Regions from separate parts of the Homo sapiens genome. Here regions 1 and 3 are each linked to region 2. The links come from fine-mapping of genetic effects on gene expression. A gene starts in region 2. Each other region holds a variant in brackets. All regions are shown on one strand. Distances are from middle to middle.

Region 1 (8,184 bases), 24 kb after region 2:
TCTCTTCCCAGTGGAGTTGTATAGATAGTGCTATTTCTCCCAGCCACAATGTGTGACAATACACATGAAGTATCATCAGCCAGGGAAGCTCACCTGAGCTTCAGTGTCAGGGTTTTTACTGGGGGCTATTCATGTAGATATGGCTGACCTTAGTCTCCAGATCCTCCAGAAGTGGTGCTGATAATGTGTGGTCCAAGTCCACCACTATAAATATTAAATAAAATAGACTTCAGATCAGAGAAAATTACCAGAGACAGAGAGTGCTATTATATAATAATAAAAGGATTGATCACCTAAAAGACACAGTAATTACAGGTGTGCAAGCACAAAACAACAAAGTGACAAAATATGTTAAGCAAATCCTGATATAACTAAAAGGATAATAGGCAAATCCACAATTATAGTTAGAGAACTCAACATCCTCCTCTCTCAACAACTTATAGAACAACTATACAGAAAATCAGCCTGGATATGGAAGAACGGAACAACATGATAAACCAACAGGGTCTACTGGTCATTTATAGAACACTTCATCCAACAGTAGAGTACACATTCTTTTCAAGCACCCACAGAGTGAATACAAAGATAGATCATATCCTAGGCCATGACACAAACCTCAACAAATTTGAAAGAGTTGAAATCATATTGAGTGTGTCCTCTGGGCTACAATGGGATCAAACTAGGAATCAATAACCTAACAATAACAGAAAAACCTCCAAACATTTGAAAGCCAAACAGCACACTTCTCACTTCTTTCTTTCTTTCTTTCTTTCTTTCTTTTTTTTTTTTTTTTTGAGACGGAGTCTCACTCTGTCACCCTGGCTGGAGTGCAGTGGTGCGATCTCGCCTCACTGCAAGCTCTGCCTCCCGGGTTCATGCCATTCTCCTGCCTCAGCCTCCCAAGGAGCTGGGACTACAGGCTCCCGCCACCACGCACAGCTAATTTTTTTTTTTGTATTTTTAGTAGAGACGGGGTTTCACCTTGTTAGCCAGGATGGTCTCGATCTCCTGACCTCATGATCCTCCCACCTCAGATAGTGCGTAGGTTAAAGAAGAAGACTCAGGAGAAATTTAAAAAGACATTGAACTGAATAAAGGTGAAAATAAAGCGTCTCAAAATTTGTGGGACACAGCCAAAGCCATGGTGAGAGGAAAATCAATAGCACTAAATGCTTACATTAGGAAAGAGGAAAAGCCTCAAACCAATAATATCAGCTTTTACTATAATAATCTAAAAAAAGAGCAAAATAGGTAGCCAAATTAAGACAATAATAAAGATAAGAGCCAAAATAAACAATGAGTTGGTTCTTTTGAAAAAAAAAATACATGAAATTGACATACTGCTTAGCGAGACTGGCAGGGAAGGAGGGAAGGAGAAAGGGAGAGGTGGGGGGAGAAAACCAAATTGCCAATAACATCAAGAATGAAGCCATGTTATCACCACAGCCCTTGAAGATATCAAAAGTATAATAAGCACACATTATGAACAACTCCACACATAAATTTGACAACTTGTATAAAATGGACCAATCCCTTAAAAAATACAAATGACCACAACTCATCCGATATGAAATAGGTAATTTGAATAGCGCTCTATTAAGGAAATTGAATTTGTAATTTAAAATCTTCTGAAAAAGACATCTCCAGGGCTAGATGCTTTTACTGGACAATTCTATCAAACTTTTAAAGAAGAATTAACACCAATTCTATACAGTCTGTTTCAGAAAATAGAAGAGGGTAGAAAACTTCCCAATTCATTTTTATGAAGCTAGTATTATTCTGATACCACCCCTCCCAAAATGAAAGTATTAAAAGACAAACTTTAGACAAATTTAATTTAACAGAATTTTACAGAGCAAAGAACAATTCGAGAATCAGGCAACTCCACAGAACTAGAATAGATTGGGAGACACTCCAACACTGCCACTTAGTTGAAGATAATTTATGGACAGAGAAAGGAAAGTAGCTTAGAGAAAATGAAAGTGAGGTATAGAAACAGCAGCCTTGTTTCTATACAATAAGAGAGCAACTCAAATATCTAGGAGGATATTAAATGTTCCCAACAAAAAGAAATGATAAATGTTTGAGGTGGACGTATATGCTAGTTACCCTGATCTGATCACTATATATTATATGTATCAAAACATCACTATGTACCCCATAAATATGTACAATCATGTGTCAATTTTAAAATACAATTTTAGAAAGTATTTTGAAATAAAAAGTTTAAAAAAGAAGAAAAAAGAAAAGAAAAGAAACAGTTGCCTTGGCTACAGCGCAGCATTTACCTTGTTTGAACACTATTGGAACAGTTGGCCTCCTGTGAGTGGTTGAAGTATTGCTTCTGTGATTGGCTGAGACTCAGGTAGTTGCTACAAAAGTAGGCTAGTCTGTTTCCACATTCGGTTAAGTTATAGTTCACTATGTATTGAGAAACGTTTAGGTTAAACTTAAAGTATGTAAGGAGGTAGCTTTAGGCTAAGCTTAATTTAACAAAAGAAAGAGAAAAGAAAACTATACACCAAGATTCTTTATAAATATAGACCACCGCCAATTTTTTTTTTTTTTTTTTTTTTTGAGACAGGCTCTTCCTCTGTCACCCAGGCTGGAGTGCAGTGGCTCATCATAGCTCACTGTAACCTTGAAATCCTGGGCTCAAGGTACCCTTTTGCCTTAACCTCTGAAGTTGGACTACAGGTATGCACCACCATGCCCAGCCCCCTGAAAACTTTAACAAATGAAATATAGCAATATTTTATAATAATTATACACTATGACAAAGTGGGGTTTATTCCAGGGATGCACATCTCATTAAGTATTTGAAAATCAATGCAATCCACCATATTAGCAGTCTGAAGAAACAAAATCTCATGATCATATCAATTGATACCAAAAAAGCATTTAATAAAACTCAATATCTGTTCATGATTTAAAAAACTCTCAGAAAAATAAGGATAGAGGAAAACTTCCTCAACTTGATAAAGAACATCTAAAATGAACACCTACAGCTATTATCACAGTTCTTAGTGAAAAACTAGATGTTATCTAAGATCAGAAACAAGGCAAGAATGTCTATTCTCACAACTGTATTAAACATAGTACTGGAAATTCCAGGTAATACAATTCTAAGTAAGGCAAGAAAAGGAAATGAAAAACATAAGGATCGGCCGGGCGCGGTGGCTCACGCCTGTAATCCCAGCACTTTGGGAGGCCAAGGCGGGCGGATCACGAGGTCAGGAGATCAAGACCAT[T/C]CTGGCTAACCCAGTGAAACCCCGTCTCTACTAAAAATACAAAAAATTAGCCAGGCGTGGTGGCGGGCGCCTGTAGTCCCAGGTACTCGGGAGGCTGAGGCAGGGGAATGGCGTGAACCTGGGAGGCGGAGCTTGCAGTGAGCCGAGATTGCGTCACTGCACTCCAGCCTGGGCGACAGAGCAAGACTCCGTCTCAAAAAAAAAAAGAAAGAAAGAAAAGAAAAGAAAAGAAAAGCATAAGGATCAGAAATGAAGAAACAAAATTGTCCCTATTTGGAGATGACATGTAAACTCCTAAGGAATCTATAAAAGAACTCTTAGACCCAGATTTGGACTCCTTAGCAAGCTTACAAGATACTAAATAAACATACAAAAATCCATTGTATTTATATGTACCAGCAATAAGTACGTGGAACCAAAATTAAAAATAGAATGCCATTTATTAATATAATCACTCTGAAACAAAATGAACTACTTAAGTGTACATTGAGCAAAAAATGAACTGGATAGGTATGCTGAAAACTAGAAAACACATAAAACAAAGAAGATCTAAATAAATAGAGAAGCATATCCATATCGTGTTTATGGATTGGAAGACTTAACACAGTAAAAATATGTCAATTCTCCTCAAATTGATATACAGCTTCAATGCAATTCCTATCAAAATCCCAGCAAGAATTTTTGCACATATAGACAAGATTATTCTAGTATTTATGTGGAAATCAAAGGATCCAGAATAGCCTAAACAATTTTGAAGAAGAATAAAGTGAGATGAATCAATCTACCCAATTTACAATAAGACATTACATAGCTTATTAATACAGCTTATTAATCAACATTGTGCAGTAGTGGTGAAGGGACAGACATATAGGTCAATGGAACAGACTAGAGAAACCAGAAATAGATCTACACAAATATGCCAGACTGATTTTTTTACAAAGACTCAAAAGCAATTCAAAGGAGGAAGAAAAGCCTTTTCAACAAATAGCGCTAGGACAATACATCTATAGGCAAATAAACACATAAAAAGACACTCAAACCTCACTCCATACACAAAAATTTAACTCAGAATGGATTGTAGATTTACATGGAAGTTGTAAAAGTATGAAAGTTTTAGAACAAAACAGAGGAAAAAAATATTCAAATCTTAGGACTAGCCAAAGAGTTCTTAAAATTAACATGGGAAACAGAAGCCATTTAGAAAAAAAAAATTTGGTAAGTTGTATTTTATCAAATTAAAAAACTTTTGTTTTGTGAAAGACGCTATGAAGAGCATGGAAAACATAAGCTACAGATTGAGAAAAAATATTTTCAAACTATATATCCACCAAGAGTATTTATTTATTTATTTATTTGAGACTAGGATTCACTCTGTTGCCCAGGCTGGAGTGCAACATCACCATCACAGCTCACTGCAGCCTCAACCTCCCAGACTCAAGCGATCCTCCCACCTCAGCCTCACAAGTAGGTGAAACCACAAGCCTGCACCACCGCGGCCAGCTAATTTTTGTATTTTTTGTAGAGACAGGGTTTCCCCATGTTGCCCATGCTGATCTCCAGCTCTTGAGCTCAGGCAATCGAACTCCTGACTGGGCTTCCCAAAGTGCTAGGATTACAAGCTTGAGCCACTGTGCCCAGCCCAATATTTAGAATATAAAAAGAACTCTCTAATTTCAATAATAGAAAACAGAAACCAGCAAAAGACCTGAACAGATATCAAAGAGCATATATGGCAAATAAACGCATGGAAAGATGTTCAACATTATTAGTCAATAAGGAAACAAGTTAAAAACAATGAAATAACTCTACACACTTACCAAAATGGCTAAAATAAAATATACTGACCAAAAAATGATGGTGAAGATGTAGTGACCAGATCATGGGTATATTGCTGGTGAAAATTCAAAATGGTGCAGCCACTTTAGAAAACTGGCAGTTTGTTAAAAAAGCTAAACATGCAACTACCCTATGACCTTGCCATTGTACTCCTAGGCATTTATCACAGAGAAATGGATACTTTACCTTCACACAAAAACCTGGATGAGAGTGTTCATAGTAGCTTTATTCATAATAGCCCAAACTAGAAACAACTTATATGAACTTCCATGGATGAACAGTAAGGTGGTCCATGGATACTATGGAACACTACTTAGCAATAAAAAGAAACAAACTTCTCTTGATACACACAACTTGGATGAATCTTTAGAGAATTAAGCTGAGTGGAAAAAGCCTATCTTAAAAGATTGAATGCTCTATGATCCATTTGCATAATATTCTTGAAATGACAAAATCATAAATATGGAGAACATATTAGTTATTGCCAGGAGTTATGGACAGGATGGTAGTGGGGAGGAATTAGTGGGTGTGACCTTTTAGGGCAACATGAGAAATCCTTGTGGTGTGGAAAATGTATATTGTATACAAAATGTGTATTGTATAATGTGTGACACAATGGTATTATATCAATAATGGAGCAGAATTGTAACCATTCTGTATCTTAACTGTGTCAATATCAGCAATGGTATTGCACTATAGTTTTCCTATAGTTTTATGGGATGTTGAGGATACACAGGCTCTGTCTGTTTCTTATAACTGCATGTGAATTTAAATTATTTTAAAATAAAAAATTAAAATGCAATGCATCTTCTGCCTGGCTTTTTCTCTTGCCTCTCGTTTATTTGGAAACTAACTTCTGTGTTGTGAGAATGCCCATCAATCACATGGACAGGCCATGTGTAGGTACTTGGGCTGATAGCCCTAGTTGAGTGCCCAGATAACAGCCAGTATCAAGCAGTAGACTTATGAATGAGCAAACCTACAGATGATTCCAGCCACCTGCTTTCCTGAGAGCTCCCTTGAGCTAATGCTGTGTGTAGCAAAGACCAGCTGTCCTTGGAAGCCCTCCCCAAAGTGCAGATGTGTTTGAAAAATAAACGCTTGCTGCTGTTTTTAGCCACCAGTTTTAGGGTGCTTTATTACATAATAATAGGTAATTGAAAAAAAAAAGGGCTTTGTCTATGAACATTCCACAGAAAAAGAAGAGAAGCGGCTTTTTCACTGAATCTTTGTGTTAGACAATGACGACCTTTTTTGAAGTATCATCAAATTGTACCTTTGAACAGTTCAAAACTGGCTTCATAGTCTCAATTAGTGAGGTTTTATTATAGCCATCATATGTTCAAATTAAAAATTTGGCATATCATTTGGTTAAAGATTTTTATGCCACTTATGAGTACAGGAGACAATTTGGGAGATATAGTTTGGATACTAAAATGGAATGTCGGCCAGGCACGGTGGCTCATGCCTGTAATCCCAGCACTTTGGGAGGCCAAGGCGGGCGGATCACCTGAGTCCGGAGTTCGAGACCAGCCTGGCCAACATGGTGAAACCCCATCTCTACTAAAACTACAAAAATTAGCCGGGCCTGGTCACAGGCACCTGTAATCCTAGCTACTGGGGAGGCTGAGGCAGGAGAATCGCTTGAACCTGGGAGGAGGAGGTTGCAGTGAGCCGAGATCATGCCATTGCACTCCAGCCTAGGGGACAAGAGCAAGATTTTGTCTCAAAAAATAAATAAATAAATAAAATGGAATTTCTGAGATTTTCAGGGTTTATGGTACAGATTATTTGAAATTAGGATTGTGTTAGAAGATCTAAGAAATGTATATACATATATAATAATTATTTATACATAATTATAAATTATTATTTCTAATTGGGTCATGATAAACTATAAATTATCATGGATTATTAAAATACAAATATTTTACATCTATAATTTACTATTAATGTCAAGTCATACACACACAAACACGAGGGGACTTCCAAAAGTTTGTGAAAAATAAAATTAAAAAACAAAATAAAAAATGTACACTTTATTTCTCAACATAAGCACCATCAAGTTCAAGATATTTTGTAGGTGATGATATGAATCATTTAGTCCATCACTAAAGAACTGAGTGTCCTGGGACCCTAACCATATCAATGCAGTTTTACTTTACTATAGAAAAACAGATGCTCTTTAAAAAATTTTTTAAGATTAGGAAACAAAAAGAAGTCAGAGGAGCCAAATCAGGACTGTACAGCAGATTAAAAGATTTTCCATCAAATTGCTCACAAAAGTGCGTTTGTTTGATGAGAGGAATGAGCATGAACATTGCCATGGTGGAGAACGACTCTGGTGAAGCTTTCCCAGGTATTTTATCCTAAAGCTGTTGCTAATTTTTGCAAAATACTCTCATATTAGGCAGATGTTATTGTTCTCTGGCCCTCCAGAAAGTCAGTAAGTAAAATGCCTTGAGCATCTCCAAAAAATTGTTGCCATGGTCTCTGCTTTTGACCAGTGCACTTTTGCTTTGACTGGACCACTTCTACCTCTTGATAGCCATTGCTTTGGTTGTTCCTTGTCATCAGGATTATACTGGTAATGTTTCATCTCCTGTTACAATTCTTCAAAGAAATGTTTCATGATCCTGATCCCACCCATTTAAAATCTCTATTGAAAGGCCTGCTCTTGTCTGTGGCCAACCTGGGTGCAATGGTTTTGGCACCTATCAAGGAATGGAAAGTTTAATTTCTTTGTCAGAATTGTGTAAGCTGAACCAGTTGACATATCTATGGTGTAGGCTATTGTTTTGACTGCTAATCCTTGATCCTCTTCAGTAAGGGCATTGTCTTACCCTTCTTAGTGTCTCAAACTAGATCCTGTTCAGACATGTTATAACAAGTTAGTATGAGTTTATTTGGGTGCAAAAAAACAATTTGAACTACCAGCCTAGTTTTTTCATAATATGCATTTTCCATAAAATTTTAAAGACCCCTCTCATTTGTGTGTATATGTGTGTATGTGTGTGTGTGTATTCACTTCCTCTTGCAAATGAATCAGACTACATACAAACCTTCTCACATGTCATAAGATATTTTTATTCTGCTG
Region 2 (8,184 bases):
CGACAGAACCAGGACAGAGGCAAACATAAAGACGCAGTGGCTTTCAGGGTCGAGCTCAGCACAGTGTTAATTCTGTCTATATTCTACTGCCCAAAGCCCAACATTGATGGGGTGGAGAGCAACTGCAAAGGCACCTGGCAACCAGTGTGTGTACAGGGAAGGGGGAAGATCTGAGAACAATTTTCCACACTCGGCCACTGGTTCTTCCAATTCTCCAAGTACTTCAAACTAGATTAAACAGCAAACGTGTATTTAATATAGAATGTGTGTGCATTTTAATATATTGGATAGGCTATGAGACGTGACCTGGAAAAGCACTAGGCTTAGATACAATATTGCATTAAACTGCTCTGGGTCCATGAATGTGAGAATCATATTCATTCACCTCTGTTCCCCAATGTCCAGTACAATACCTGGCACAAAGTAGGAATTAACACATCTCTTAAATGAATGAAACCATGTGGAAATGATATTATTTGTGTACCTCTTCTGTCTTCCCTATTTGAGGGCAGGGGTCAACATTTTACCCTTCATAGAATGTGGCACCGGATCTTGTAAATTGCCACCCGAAATTTATACCTTGAATAGATTATTGGATTAATGAAAAAGCATTATACTAGGAAGAAGTAAGCCACTGTGCCTTTTTGCAGTTAGATCTGAGAGGCAGCCATCATTCAATAGAATAAGTTTGGCTTCTAGTTTCAGATGGGAATACAAATCCTCATAAGGATGTTTCTGCACAATTATTTGCTAAAGCTTTTTGTGAAATGGCGAAGATAATCTCACCTTCCCCACAGGGTTATTGAGAGTATTAAATGAAACAGACACATGTAAATGCCAAGCTCAGAGAGGAACTCAAAGCAGTACAGCAGCAGAGGTCATTTCCCTCTACACACTCCCTGCTGCTTCCGTGGGCAGACATAAGTGTTAGCCAGGCCAATGAAAGCAGTTAAGCAGCCAAGTTGGACTTTGCCAAGGGATCCCACACCACCACCACCCCTTTTAAAGGTTACTACAAAAGTAATCTTAAGAAAGTTTTATATATAATAACTGTGATATTTTTAACTTGATTGCACATCTTATCAAACAGGTATTGATTTTCAGTGCTTTCAATGATTAAGAATAAGGGCAACAAAAAAGAAAATCTGTGTATAATATGATGAACCTGGAATTTTTGGTTTCATACGTGTGTGTATATATATGTATATTTATGTATATATATATATATACACACACAGAGCAGTAATGGCCTTTAAAATAAATTCAAATAATGATAGAAAACAAAACATCTTCATGCATGGTGTAATCTTTTTCCTACAAGAAGGCCTTGTTTTAAAAATGTGCATAAGGTTATGCTTTTGCATATTTTATATAATTTCTTAAAGGTATGTTATCAAATTAATGTTTTCCAGCCAGGGTATCATATTTAAGGGTGATAGTAAATACTCCAAACACACCAGCTGTCACAAAATAATTATGCCTATGTCTATTATTGTTATCTGTTTCTCATAAAATTAATCATAAATGATATGAATTATTGATTAAAATTAGTGTTTATAGACTATAAACCTATGAAAAGCCACAAGAGCAGTATTTTTACATATTTTTCAAGAATTCAGATAACAGTGTAACCTTTGATTATAATAACAGAATTCATTTCTGTAGCAGAATTACAAATACAGCAATTATAAATATAAATGATACTCCGTTAAGTCCATCCTGCTTTTAACTGTGCAACTATTTACAGCCAGAGGCAGGAATAAAAAAGGGTGTATACGTGTGGAAGAAAATTCACTCCATGCTGTTTTTGACCTTGCGTGTAAAAAATAATTCATTACTATCAAAAGAGGCATTTTCCCAAATAAAAACAAACAAGGAAACAAAAACACAGGAAAAAAAAAAAAACTACTTACTGACCGTGACTTAAGTGTGGAGGAAAAAACCCTTTGCAGCTAATGTTGGCAAAAGTGTGTCCCCCGTAGATTTAGTCTAAGAATTAAGAAACTGGCCGGGCGCGGTGGTTCATACCTGTAATCCTAGCACTTTGGGAGGCCAAGGTAGGCGGGCTGCCTGAGTTCAGGAGTTTGAGACCAGCCTGGGGAACATGGCGAAATCCTGTAGTCCCAGCTACTCAAGTGGCTGAGGCATGAGAATCGCTTGAACCTGGGAGATGGAGGTTTCAGTAAGCCAAGATCATGCCACTTCACTCCAGCCTGGGTGACACAGTGAGACTCTGTCTCTAAAAAAAAAGAAAAAAGAAAAAAGAAAAAAATAGCCTGTTTAATGAAGCATTGACAAGGAACCCAGGCTATGATTATAGAATAGGAGCTTCATAGTAATTGTAAGAACTCTGGTTCTTAGAAGACAAAAGTTAAATTTAATAAATAAGTTTAATGGCCAAAATATCTTTTTAAAACTTGTTTGTAGTCTTTAGAATGTGAATTTTATTTGGTTTAGATCTTACTAAGCTATATTTTGTAACTGAAATTAATACTTCATTTTTGCCTGAAATTAGTAGAAAAAACAATAGCTAAAGTTTGCTACAGATAAATAAATGTCAATATTAGACTTTTTTTCTTTTGAAAAGGTAGGGAACTTTAATTAGTAATATAAGTTAAGAAAATGACAAAGATGTCAGATAATGAAGAAAAAATGTGACAGTAATCTTTCATCCAAAAAAAGGTTATGTTCCTATTGTCTAAAGCCAAAATATATTTCATTGCAAATATATATAAAGTTTAAGAATTGTTATTTTAGGCCCTTTCCGCAATAAGCCAACACATAACTTATCATGCCATAAATGTTTTTAAAAGAAATATGATTAAAATTATACAAAACGACATAAAAATTTCAGAAAGAATATTGATAAATATCTTGGTACATAGTAGATTTAGTTGCACAGATATTAGGTGGTACAAGTTTTATATCTTCTATAATAATAACTTTTTATTATCTCCTTGTGCACTAATATTTCAATATGTCAAAGTCATTTGAATAACCTTTCTAGTAAATCTCAACTTCGTAGATTGAAAACTTTTTTAAAAGCTTTATTTAAGTTTAGTGGTACATGTGCAGGTCTGCTATATAGATAAACTCATGTCATGGGGGTTTGATGTACAGATTATTTCACCACCAAGGTATTAAGCCTAGTACCCATTAGTTGTTTTTCCCGATCCTCTCCCTTCTTCCATCCACCACCCTCCGATAGGCCCCAGCGTCTGTTGTTCCCCTCTGCGTGTCCATGTGTTCTCATCATTTAGCTCCCACGTATAAGTGATAATATGCAGTATTTGATTTCTGTTCCTGCATTAGTTTGCCAAGAATAATGGCCTCTAGCTCCATCCATGTCCCTGTACAGGACATGATCTCATTATTTTTTATGGCTGTGTAGTATTCAATGGTATACTGAGTTTTCTTTATCCAGCCTACCACTGATAGGCATTTAGGTTGATTCTTTGCTATTGTGAACAGCGCTGCAAGGAACATACGTGTTCGTGTGTCTTTATGAAAGAATGATTTATATTCCTTTGGGTACATACCCAGTCATGGGATTGCTGGGTTGAATGGTAGTTCTGTTTTTAAGTCTTTGAGGAATTGCCACACTGTTTTCCACAATGGTTGAACTAATTTACACTCCCACCTAGTATATAATCCTTCCTTTTGGAAACAAATTTTATCAGTATATTCAATTCTGAACACCCATGTTTTAGAAAATGTTAAGCCTATTGTCCTTTAATCACTATTTGCTTACACATTAAAATGTAAAACAGGCAAAAGAGAAAGAAGGAAGAAAGGAGGGAGGGAGGGAAGGAGAAAAGTGAGAAAGAAAGAAAGATAAAAGAAAAAAGAAAGAAGAAAGAAAGAAAGAGAAGAAATAAAGAGAAAAAAGAAAGGAAGAAAGGAAGGAAGGAATGAAGAAGAAAAGAAAAAAGAGAAAGAAAGAAGGAAAGAAAAAGAAAAAAAGAAAGAGAAAGAAAGAAAGAAAGAGAAAGAAAGAAAGAGAGAGAGAGAGAGAAAGAGAGAGAAAAGAAAATTTTCTCCAGATTAGAATTATTGGCTGCTATTGTTTGGATGCTGGGTACTAGCTGTGATTACCCTTTGTGAATGTAGGAATGCACAGATTCCAAAAGTGAGTCTCATAGAAAAAGTCAGCATTCAAATATGTTTTAAGGTTACTCTATCCAAACCCCAAAGAACCCACAGAAGATGAAGCAGTAATTTTAGCTTCTCTTGGTGTATTGTACATGCATTTAAGGCCAGTTCCTTCCTTCAAATTCCCATGTGTTTTGTAGTTACCAACACACCTTTCAACCCTATCTGTTTATATACATCATATAGTCCTCTGTCAATTGCATAAAAGTTGTCCCCTTTGTGACTGTAATCGCCTTTTCCAATACACATCTACTCAGAATGCAGGTCCTTAAACAGCAGGCTGCCTTGAAAACCCTCTCCAATCTTCTTCGATCATCAGCTTTGAGATGCATATTCCTAGAGCCCATATCATCTTCTTCATCACTATCATAAACGTCTCCACATATTGATGAACGTTTGGAGAATCGATTTATGACAAGGGAGTTTACTCTTCCTGCATCCGCGGCTTCTTCGTGATTTTGTCCTAGTCACCGGGCCTATCCCACCTGCTGGGGATGCCGCCCCCTCGGAAGTGCCTGAAATCTCCCCACTTACCCAACTAGCCTCAGCGCCTCCTGTGTGCTGCAGCAGATGGCGCGCTGCAGACCCCAGCCTGGTGCCTCCGCGACTCCTCCCCAACCATGATTTACAGGCGGGGACAGCCACATTCCTGCGCCCCAACTTCCACCTCCGCTTCCTGCGCGCGCGAGACTCAAGCTGCCACAGTGGCTCTGCCGCCAGCGTCCCAGCTCCTCCCACACCCGAGTTTTTATTTCCTGCTCCCTCTCCAGCCCGGCCCAGGCCAGCCTACCGGCGACTAGGATGCTTTCGCTTTCGCTCTCGCTTTCCAATACTCGGGACTGGGGAAACCGGGAGAATAGAAGCAGGCAAGGACCGCCGTGGGCACGGGGTCAGTGAGACAGGGTCCTGCTCGCGGCGTCAAGGAGGAGCGCTGTGGGTGGGTAGGGTAGGCGCGCCCCCTCGGCCTTGCCTTTCCAACCACTCTTTTTTGCACGCCAACAGGTGTCCCCAGCGCAGCCAATCGGCTTCCGAAGTAGGTGAGTTGCTGCCTGAAGAGAAAAGACAAACTCCAGTATCTTTCATTCCATTGGCCAGACGCGCCATTCCCCAAGTGAGTTCTGTTCTCCAACCAAAGTGCTGGATTCCAAGGGACTGGAAGGGAAAGTCCCTAAAAATCACGAGTTCAGGCGTCTGAGACTTGGTGGGAACGGACCTTCCTCTTAGGTGAGTTACTCTTTGGTTCTGGGGCTGACCTGGAGTTTTGCCAGGATTCATTGGCCGCAGCAGGATGCTGGTGGGGACAGGGTAAATAAAATCTGCACTCCTGCGGGCTTTTATTGTTGAAAGGGGCACTGACGCTCTCCCTGGAAACTTAAAAAGAACAGCCAAGTGAACGGATGTGTCTTTCTTTTGCAGTGCCCAAGCCTGTTCTAATTTTTAAAAACTGATGTCTATTAAGACCCAATGTTAACTTTATGAAAATGGTTCCTAAGGAGATTCACATCTCTGTGTCCGAATTCTGTGTGCAGCAAACATCATCTCAAGTGCGTTTTCCCAACTACGCTTCTTTCCAGGATAAAATACTCTAAGTGACAAATGTTGAGTACATTATCAGGTATGTTCACTATTGTGAGAACTGAAGCCATCTACACTCACATAGCTTGCCAACTACATTAACCTGACTTCTTATTCCATTATTTTCATCAACATACATTTACTATTTCAAGAAACTTTTGCCAGGGACCGGAAAGTTGCAAATATCTTTATTGCTTAATCCAGTATCTTCTTCAAAGATCCAACCACTCTTCAATGGAAAACATCAAAGAACAGTTTACATTCTAAGACTTTGAACCTTTACCTCAAAATCCTAGCCTTGTTTTATCTACCAATCCTAAACTTTTACCCGTAGCTGACTCAATTCTAACCAATTCCCCTCATTAAATATTAGACTTACAATGGGACTTCAAAATCTCAATACATATAGCCCAAACTTGCTCTTCCCTCTCTGAGACACCACTTAAATTCTGTCAAGTTATTGTTCTCCATTACCTAAGTGAGCAAGAAACTTAGCTTTGTCTTATCAACAGGTTGCTTTGATATTACTGGGAGCCAACATTTGACATTCTTGGAGGCTCCAGCAAGACCTAATCAACCTCCCAACCCTCAACTCAGAATCAGTGTGTGCCCTGAAGTCCCTTCAACCTTCTTGAGGCTCTCCCTGATCTCAAAGGTGGAGAAAGTAGATCTTGCATCAGGTTGAACTCCAGTTTCTTTTTGCTCAGTTTTTCAAGCGCTGAGTTTATTTTGTCCCTAGGCATAAAGAAATCTTTCTAGGAACCCCTTTGGTTATGGGACCAGATTTTTAAAAGCTTTTTAGGCTTGGTGAAAAATCTGCCTTATCACTAGCAACACTACGACTTGTCTCTGTTCTTGTTTTTTGTTGTACTCGTGTAAAAGAAAAGTTCAAGGGAAGAGAACAGGCTCAAGTCTACTTCTCACGCTGGCTCTGGGGATTAGGAAATTCAGAAAGTTTTGTTTCAGACTGGCAGTGCTGTCTGATATAAACACAGCGTCAAGTACTGCACGCTGTAGCTACCTGAGGTTTAGGCCGGAAGAGGCACGGCTGATTTAAAAGTGAAAGAAAGTAACCAATTGGTTCGCAGACAACCTTTTCCCAAAAGGCGGGCGATTCAAACCCCTAGCCCCACCTGCTCCGTTTCCCGCCCAGCTGGAGCTCTGGAGCCTTTGCTTCCTCAAATACGAGCGGGAACTGCGTTGAGCGCTGGATTCCAGGCCGAGTGCTGGCGAGGCGCGCAGTGAGTGAGCACACAGGGCGCTGGGGTGCTCCGCGGGGCGCGGTCACGGGCGCGGCCGCGGCGGGCTCGAGTCCCGGCTGGGAGGAGAAGGAGCTGGGTGTCAGGAAGCCGGGGACTGACAGCGCCACCCATCTGGGGAGCCGGGAGGACACAGGTTTTATTTTGGTAGTGCTGCAAGTCCCCTTGTGTGCTGGGGGGAGCGGGGCGGCGTGGTAGGATTGGAAGAGGCTTAGAGTTGGCCTCGACCCCTGCCCTTGCCCCTGGAAAGGCAGAAAGTGGGGGTTGGGGTGCGGAGAAGCAGGAAGAGAGGGAGAGTGAAGGAGGGGAGGAAAGGGAGAGAGGAAGAGGGAGAGTGAAGGAGGGGAGGAAAGGGAGAGAGGCAGAGAGGGGGAAGGAGAGAGGGAAGGAAGGAGAGATTGAGAGACAGAGAAATTCCTAAGGGGAGCTGTCAGGTGGGCTGGACATGGGCCCCAGGCTGCACTGCTTTATCCCTTTGCTGTAGGAAGTCAAGCAAGTTCTTTAGGTAAGTAGAACCTTGATGTCAAGTATAAAACAGGGGTTGGTATAGGATAGCTAAGAGCACTTTATATTTTGATATAATCTGATTTATCCTGGATACTGAAAACAATGTAGGGAGACGGAGGATATTGGAGTGTTTTCTTAACCTCTTGCCCCTTTCCACTGTGATTGCTCAAGTACATGCAAAATTAATGTTTCTTTCTGCCCATTTTATTTTCCTTTTTTTGTCTGTGTCTATTAATCATTCCTAAAGCACCCGGATCCTCTCTCAAACTTCGTAAGATGAGACATCATGAACAGACACAGTGAATCCCTAGATTTTCTTAATAGTTGGGCAACAAGTTCTTGCATTTAGGGATGTTGCAACATAGCCCAGTTCCGCAATTGTACATTTTCTATTTTTTTTCCTAGGTTCTCTGCTGTTTAAAAAGTATCCCTGTGGTGAGTGTATTGATATTGATAACATTTACATGACCTTTTTATTGATTATTTACTGGGGGACCTATTACATACAGGCAGTGTTTTAAAGGCTTTGCATATGCTCTCTCTCTCTCTCTATATATATATATATTTACACACACTGTATATATAGATAGATTGCATATATAATATATATAATATGTGTGTGTATGTGTGTATATATATATTGTGTGTGTGTGTGTGACAGAGAGAGAGAGAGAGAGATGAAGTCTCGCTC
Region 3 (8,184 bases), 46 kb before region 2:
GTTTTCTATTTTTTGAAAGTCAATTTTGATAGTTTATTCTTGAGGGATAACATCCATTTCTTTATCAGTGAATATGTTGCCTTGGAGTAGTATATAATCTTCTATTATAAGTCTTTTTCCTTTTCTGTTTCCATTCTCATGGCTCATACTCTATGCCTTTTTTTTTTCTTTTTTCTCTTTCTCTTCTATTTCCTTTAAATGCCTTACCAGAAGTTTATCTCTCTCTCTCTTCTGCTCTTTCTTTTTGCCATTTAAAAATGAACTTTTGGCTTTATATATCATTTGCACTGTGTCTTGTTCTACATTTCATTATTTATGGCTTTCATTTTTACAAATTGTTCCATTTGTTATTTTCTAGTCTACTTTGATATTCTTTTTATAATTCTTTGAATATTTACTTGGCTATGTTCAGTCATTCTTTTAAAATCCGGTCTTTTAAAACATCTACTCTTTTAAATTCACTGAGGTGTTGTGTTTTGGCCATATTCAGGAACTTGCATTTATAAAAGCATCCTCAAATTCTTGAAGGTTTCTTTAAAATTAGTTACACTATTTTCTCTTTTACTCCTTAACAATACAATTTTCAACATAATATTAATACATGCACTGCTAAAACTCACACTTATTGTTTATATTTCCCCTGATAAACAGATACTCATCGTCCCATGAAGTTTGTGGCTTGTGAGAATGAGATCACAAGTATCTTTCTTTAAAACCCATGAGTCTAACACCACATAAATTGCGCAGAGTGCTACGGAAAATTCAGTTACTTCATTCTATTTTGTGGGCTTCTGGCTGTAAAGGCCATGTCACTCTTCAAAGAGGCTGATATCCTGTAGCCTTGGGAAAAGGCAATGTCTCCTTAATGTTTATATTCACTAAAGTATCTTGCTCAAACCCTGGACACTGCAGATTCTAGAACAATATAGATTGTAGGTGTCTGGTGAAACAGTAGGCACTATAACTTAGAGAAATCATGGTTAAATTCATCTTGTGCCGAGCTTAAGAACTTAACCCTATCAACACGGACTCAGTACAACCCAGAATATGTCCCACAGGGGGTTATGTGGGGCACAGTATATATAACAGGGGGATATGTGTGGTCCAGGAGGTGAGAGAAGCAGGGAGAGAAGCAATTGTTGCATTCCTTTGCTTCTGCTGGGCGCTCTGTGATGCTATATATAAAATAAGGTAAGTGTGCAGTTGAGTGGGTAGGGAGAAAAGTGAGGCATCTTAAGGCCTGGTGGAGGGTGACTGATTTCATCCTGTCTTTGTTATGTATCTGAGAAGCAGGTTTATAACCAGTAACTGTCAGTGTTCAATATTTAACAAACTCCAGTTACACAGGTAAGAGGTCAGCAGTAGCTTATAGGTCTCACTTATATTATCCACGTGCCCAACTGCAGCCATCGTGGGCTAGTGCTAAAACTTTCTTTTGAATTTTCATTTTTCTAATAATTGCAATCAGTGAGAGGAGAAGAAAAAGTTCAAGGGAATGATCTGACCTTTCACCATCCTACACAGGAGATGACTGATGACATGGATTCATACACTAATGTATATCGTGTATTCTCCAAAGACCCTCAAAAATCACAAGAAGTTTTGAAAAATTCTGAGATCATAAACTGGAAACAGAAACTCCAAATCCAAGGTAACAAGTCTGAAGAAATGGGCAAGCAGCTGTGCTTCTCAAATTGTGTCTTCAACTAACAGCATTAGCATCACCTGAGAGCTCATTAGAAATGTAAATTCCTTGAAATTCTCAGAGCTGGGAGAGGTGGAGCAATCTGTGGTGTGCCAAGGACTATAGCTGATTGTGGTGTAAACTCAACTTTGAGAACTACTAAGCACTGAGGCATTAATCAGGTGTGAGCAGTGTAAGTAGAGAACTGCATGTCTGACAATATTGCTTTCTTGGCTTTCTCTCAGGTTTTCAAGAAAGTTTAGGTGAGGGGATAAGAGCAGCTGCATTTTCAAATTCAGTGAAGGTAGAGCATTCGAGAGCACTCCTCTTTGTTACGGAAGATATCCTGAAGCTCTATGCCACCAATAAAAGCAAGCTTGGAAGCTGGGCTGAGACAGGCCACCCAGATGACGAATTGGAGAGGTACAAAAAACATGTGCTGATCATTTATAATTGCTATTCCTTGTACATTTTTGTAATTCACATAAATCAGTTTTGGAATGAAGAGAGGATGAATTCATTCCTTGGGATGAATAAAGGTTGTCAGTGGTCAAAATACGCCACTTTGCAATGGTGGGTCTTTTAACAAGAAGAGGGCCTGGGATCTCTAGAATGGAAGGGCACCTAGAAATTACAGGAGTGGGGATGAAAGTTGTTGTCTTTCTTTTTGTTTTCTACAGCGAGACTCCGAACTTTAAGTATGCCCAGCTGAATGTGTCTTATTCTGGGCTGGTAAATGACAACTGGAAGCTAGGGATGAATAAGAGGAGCCTGCGTTACATCAAGCGCTGCCTAGGAGCCCTGCCAGCAGCCTGTATGCTGGGCCCAGAGGGGGTCCCGGTCTCATGGGTAACCATGGACCCTTCTTGTGAAATAGGAATGGGCTACAGTGTGGAAAAATACCGAAGGAGAGGCAATGGGACACGGCTGATCATGCGATGCATGAAGTATCTGTGTCAGAAGAATATTCCATTTTACGGCTCTGTGCTGGAAGAAAATCAAGGCGTCATCAGAAAGACTAGTGCACTAGGTTTCCTTGAGGCCTCCTGTCAGTGGCACCAATGGAACTGCTACCCACAGAATCTTGTTCCATTGTAGACAATGAAGCTGCTTAGCAATCTTGGGCAAGCCATCTCTTAATATTAAAGCAGACACCACAGAATAGCTTTCTTCACTTACAAATGTTGATTGGGCATTTGTGATATGGCAGGAACTCTTTCTCACATGGAGACTTGATGTTAAAGGACACAGCCATGCTCTTGAGGAGCTTACAATCCAAGCTGGAGGCAGGGGAGGGTATAGTCTTTAAATATGCTTAAGTGTTGTAGGGAAGGACAGAGTTACCAATAAACATGTAACTAGAAAGCCAGGCTCAGTTCTTACCTCTGGGAATCAGAACTCTTTATGAAACTTGGTTGATAGAATCTACTATCTGGAAGATAAATGAAGAACTTTAATAAAATTGTCAATAGAATATACCTAATCTATATGGATACTTTATTGGAAAGAAATACCCCTGTTATGTATGGATTTATGAGGCAATGGCTATACTAAAGAATGGAATCAGTCTCTTAGTTTAGTGTCTAGCAAGGTATCAAAGGTGAAGCCTCAGACAAATGGCTTTCTTAGGCTACCTTTCATCATTGTTATGCAGAAAAGGATCTCCAGAGAATCAAGTGGGCTGGCCTTGAGGCCTCTGTTATGGAAATGACATTTGTTGTGCCTCCTTTCCCCTACTCTTTCTCACTTCCTCATCATTAGTGAAGCATGGCACAAGATAAGGTGTTGCCTGTGAGTCTGGCTATAAATTCAGCTTACGATGTTTGCAGCACTGCTATCTTAAGGGGTCAAGGGCATTTCAGGGGGAAGTGACCACTAAGGTGAAGACTGGAGAGTGAGTAAGAGTGAGCCATACAGTAAAAGTGGAAAAATCCAGATGATGGAAAGGACACGTGCCATGCACTATCATAATAACTTTATAATTGAACACTTATATTACAATTTCTGAACCCCTGATCTCAAAAAAAAAAAGAAAAATACACTTCATGAAAAAAACGGGGCCTCATTTGGCTCCGCTCTCCCCCC[CT/C]GTCATTGGAGCTTGGATTACTGTGAACATTGTAGCCACAGCAAAAAGAAAAAAAAAATTGGCATTTTTACTCCTTCTGATAGTCTAGATTTTAAAAAACAAAAGAAATCTTAATAGAATTGTCTTTTGGAGTAAAGCCTACCAGTATTAATCAACACCTCATCTCTCCATAGAAAATAACCCCCCACAAAATTGAATGTTTATACTTGATGTGATTTGAAAGTGTGCAATTCCAGCACCTAAAGAATAGTGTAGGTCATGGAGTTTTTAAGAAACTCCAATTCATCTTAGAAGGCTGTGGTAGATCTGTTACCGCTTAGTATAAATCAATCCAATCAGATTTCTAAACTCCTGAGACCTGGCTGATTTGTTACATTGACTGAAATGAAAGCATGGTCTGAGAAAGAGAGTAAACATGTCATTTGGGATTTCAAAGGGTGGAAAATTCTTACCTAAAAAATAAACTCAGGAACTTGGGGTAATATAAAAACAGCTATATTTTGGCACTCAAGAGGCAAAAGCTAATATATGTGATGAAAGAACACAAAGCAAATAAAATTTGACTATTTCAAAATGATGCCTCGGGCAGGTCCTGTATCCAGAAGAGGATGTTCATCCAGGGTCTGGGGCTAAGGTCATCTTAGCACAGCCCAGCTGCCAGCTTCCCTCCTCTGCCGCTTCCCTGAACGCAAACCAGCTTCCCTTATCTAGCCCTTCGTGGACCTGTTAAAAAAGTGATCCCTAAACCTTATCATGCACTTGCATTAAAAAAACAACAAGAAAGCATGGGAAGGATGAAAGAGGATTTCTTAAATATGGCACAAGTAAGTCCAACATTATCAATAAACACACTAACAATGAATGGGGTAATTTTCTTATTAAAATATATGTTTTTCATACTGAGTTAAAAACAAAATCCAAGAAGCATACATCTCTGTGCCCTCACATGGTGGAGACAGAGGAGAGCTCAGACTCTCTTCCTTTTCTTAGAAGGACTTAATACCATCAAGGGGGCTCCACCCTTATGACTTAATCTAAACCCAATTACTTCTCAAAGGCCCACCTCCAAGTCCGTTGGGAGTTGGGTCTTCAACATATGAATTTGGGAGTCACCGTCAGTTCATAAGGAAGCATATCTGAAATAAACAACACACAAGGGTTCACGGAAAGGAAGAAGATATACTAAATGAACGTGAAACTGAAAAGCAAAGTAATACCATCAACACTTGGCAAAATAGAACGTAAGTTGAACATCTGCTAAATACAGAAATTCTCCCACAACATAGGTCATGAATCTGCCTCACAACACAACACAACTACAAACTATACATGGCAAAAGCTGACAGACATACAAAAGAAAAATGCAAATCCACAGTCTCAGTGGGAGAACTCAAAAAACTTCCCTCAGAAAGCAACAGATGATGCTGACAAAAAATAAAGACAATTTGACAAACTGCCATCACAACTTGCTATTTCTGGTGATGTTGGGGTTATCTGCTTATTGTGTATTTGAGAACTTCCCTTCATCTGCTTGTCAAACTGACCAGCAGGTGGTGCTGGGGAGGGAAACACTCCATCTGGAGAATGCTGGCAACTTGTCTCTTAAGTCTAGAGGCTCCTGGTCCCCCTCATGATCATCACCTATCAGGCACAAGCACTGCTGATACAGGAGCTAAAAAGAAATTATTAAGCAGTTAGTGTAGGTAAGAGAGTCCTCAGTAAGGTTTTTCTTTTAATAAAAAGCAGCCCCCATATAATCGCTTTTCTAGCGAAAATCAGCCTAAAAAATCAAGCCGCAAGCATGCTAAAAGCTTGCATAGGTAAATGCCGGCACCTATGCAAATAGAAAAGGGATACCTGGAAGTCAGGCGTACTCAACATAGAGGTTTCCTCTTCCTATTTTTTTTTTTCAGATGGAATCCTGCTCTGTCACTCAGTCTGGAGTGCAGTGGTGCATTCTCAGCTCACTACAACCTCCCCCTCCTGGGTTCAAGCAATTCTCTCCCTCAGCCTCCTGAGTAGCTGAGATTACAGGTGCCCACCATCACGCATGGCTAATTTTTTTTTTCGTGTTTTTTTAGTAGAGGCAGGGTTTCACCATCTTCGCCAGGCTGGTCTTGAACTCCTGACCTCTCGTGATCCACCGTCCTTGGCCTCCAAATGTGCTAGGATTACAGTCATGAGCTACCACGCCTGGCCGCCTATTTCCTTTTCTTTGTCTTCACTTGTGCAGGCGACACGGCACAGGCCAGGTAGAGGCCCCGTTTGCATACTAAAGATTCATGTGGGATGGCCAGGCTCTTCGTGCATCACATAAATAGCACACCTGCTCCAACCAACCCTCTGAGCCCTATGTAAATCAGACACTGCCTCCTCAAGCTCCTCTATAAAACCAACCACAACTCGCCCCAAACCCGGAAACCTGCTCAGGCACCCTTCCAATGCATGAGGAAACTCTCTCTTTGTTCTTTTGCCTATTAAACTTTTGCTCTTAAACCCACTCCTTTGGTGTCCACATCTACAATTTCCATACTGTGAGACAGCAAACCTCTGGCATTTCCCCAGACAAACGATGCCGCTTCACTGCCATCTCAAGCCCAAGTGCCAAAAATGACCACTTCAGCCTGAAGAATGCCATGGCTGCCACCATGCTGCTTAGGATAAGCAAAGACACAAAGATGAAGTGGGGACGGGTTTACTAGAGAGGCTGCAATAAAAGCATATCCCAGGCAACTTTCCACTTCTTAACTTCTGTCATTTTCAAACTTAAAGGTGTTTTTTTTTTTGTTGTTGGTTTGTTTTTCTTTTTAACAGTTTCTATTTCTGGCCAAAAGACTGCTCTTTGTTTTCCTGCTATGACATATTTATTCTTTGTTCTAAAGTCTTTTCCATGATTTCATATAGGAACTAAGAAGACAGCCAGGTGTTTGCTCAACATATTGATCCCCTCTCCACCTAGAACTCTCTTTACTCTTTCTCCCAGGAAGATTCCACCCCTCCTGTTCTGCCAGTTTCCTCATATTTGCCTCAGACAATTGCCCTTGTAGGCAGATGAACCCGGGCCAGTTCTACTTTACTATGGACACCAACTCTTCTGAAATAACATCTGAGTCTTGGGATTTGCATATGAATCTTCCCTTGACACAGCAAACAGTCTTTCCTTTTACCTTCACTAAAGTCATCTACTTGGGAGAATGGAGAGCACTAAAATTCTACAGATTTCAAAACCAAACCTGCTGTGCCTTTCCAGAGTCCTTGGAATGAAAAAGAGAAAATAGGTTAGAAGGGATATTTTCTCCTTCCTTCCTTACCCTGAAGGAGCTCCTATTTTTAAAGGGAATCATTGGGGACAATCCAAAAGAAACTCTTGCAAATCAAGCTTTGCCATGCCACCACGAGAAGGGTAACCTGTGTGCCCAGTGGTGAAATTTTTAAACTTTGGTAATGATCTCCAGGTTCACCCCTATGGATAACGAAAATATTTTAAGAACCTATAAGGGTGCCAACCTTTCAGAACCATGTCTCTTTGCAAGGACCTACCAAGGTCTAGAGATCATAGCACCTCACTAGCAGCCTACAGGCATTCTCCAAAGGTTCCCACCTGCCCCACCCAACACACACACACACACACACACACACTCACACACACACACCCTGCTATCCTTTGGCCCTAGATTTCACCTAACTTTGTTCTAAATCTTAATCTCCCTGTGCCCTCAAACTCATGTGTTATAGGGCCTTGGTAATCCCTTTCTAAGCATATTCCCTGACTTCTCAAATACTATTTATGAGACATATATCTAAAGTAAAACTATATTTCAGGCCAGATCAGCACGCTTCTTATTACAATTATAAACACTGAACTTCTTAGTTGCTGGGAAAATATATTAAAAAGGCATTATTATGCTTTTATAGCCATAGATTATCTAGGGAAAAGTATTGAGTGTCTCGAGAATGAGTGAAAATTCTTTCCCCAATATACACTTTTTTTCTTTTGCAAAGTATATCCTGCATATATTCAAAAGATAATGTTTTTCAAAAGGGGAAATTGCCTCCACTGTGGACTCTTATTAATTCACTTATCCCTCAAGTTCTCTTATTAACTCACTTATACATCATATTCCCTTATTAACTTTTTATTCAATCACTGGTATTTGTTTCTAGTGCTCATAATTGAACACAAATTTTTTTACTATTATATAAAATAAAGTAACAGCTATTCACCATTTCCTCCTTTACCTCAATAAGTTGATATCTTCCAATAGATTCATTTCCCTGTTTTGCTCCCTCCTCTGATCCAGACGAGTGTGCTAAGTGATACAAAATGCTTTTATTCCTCTACCGTTCAACCCCCTGAGACCGATGTTTTAGTTCCATGTGTTTTAGTTCCAGGTGTCACAGAATTTCCCTTGCA

Evidence for each region. PIP is the estimated chance that this variant, and not a neighbour inherited with it, causes the effect.
Region 1: its variant is fine-mapped to the expression of FAM111A in whole blood (TOPMed, PIP above 0.99).
Region 3: its variant is fine-mapped to the expression of FAM111A in tibial nerve (GTEx, PIP above 0.99). The same link has a PIP of 0.9 or more in sun-exposed skin and tibial artery.

The regions. Positions count from the first base shown.
Region 1 is chr11:59,161,922-59,170,105 of GRCh38, forward strand. It overlaps LOC124902601 (basic proline-rich protein-like), which reads right to left. Exons shown (of 2, transcript XM_047427951.1): 2 at 8,154-8,184. Among named protein-coding and RNA genes, the nearest start is that of DTX4, 6.1 kb to the right of the region's middle. The variant T/C (reference allele first, on the strand shown) is at 3,252.
Region 2 is chr11:59,137,929-59,146,112 of GRCh38, forward strand. It overlaps FAM111A (FAM111 trypsin like peptidase A), which reads left to right and starts at 4,928. Exons shown (of 6, transcript NM_001312909.2): 1 at 4,928-5,018; 2 at 5,155-5,376; 3 at 5,569-5,767; 4 at 7,899-7,928. FAM111A-DT (FAM111A divergent transcript) reads right to left here and starts at 4,880. Exons shown (of 4, transcript NR_110184.1): 1 at 4,687-4,880; 2 at 2,029-2,239. It also overlaps the pseudogene LOC100422399. RefSeq lists enhancers at 4,696-5,145, 6,514-6,623.
Region 3 is chr11:59,092,005-59,100,188 of GRCh38, forward strand. GLYATL1B (glycine-N-acyltransferase like 1B) reads left to right here. Exons shown (of 5, transcript NM_001355566.1): 3 at 1,525-1,651; 4 at 1,930-2,107; 5 at 2,365-2,782. The coding sequence ends at 2,782. It overlaps LOC105369315 (a long non-coding RNA gene), which reads right to left. Exons shown (of 3, transcript XR_007062680.1): 1 at 5,628-8,184; 2 at 5,315-5,442; 3 at 4,250-4,906. Among named protein-coding and RNA genes, the nearest start is that of GLYATL1B, 9.8 kb to the left of the region's middle. RefSeq lists enhancers at 3,042-3,633, 5,756-5,925 and a silencer at 5,033-5,142. The variant CT/C (reference allele first, on the strand shown) is at 3,770.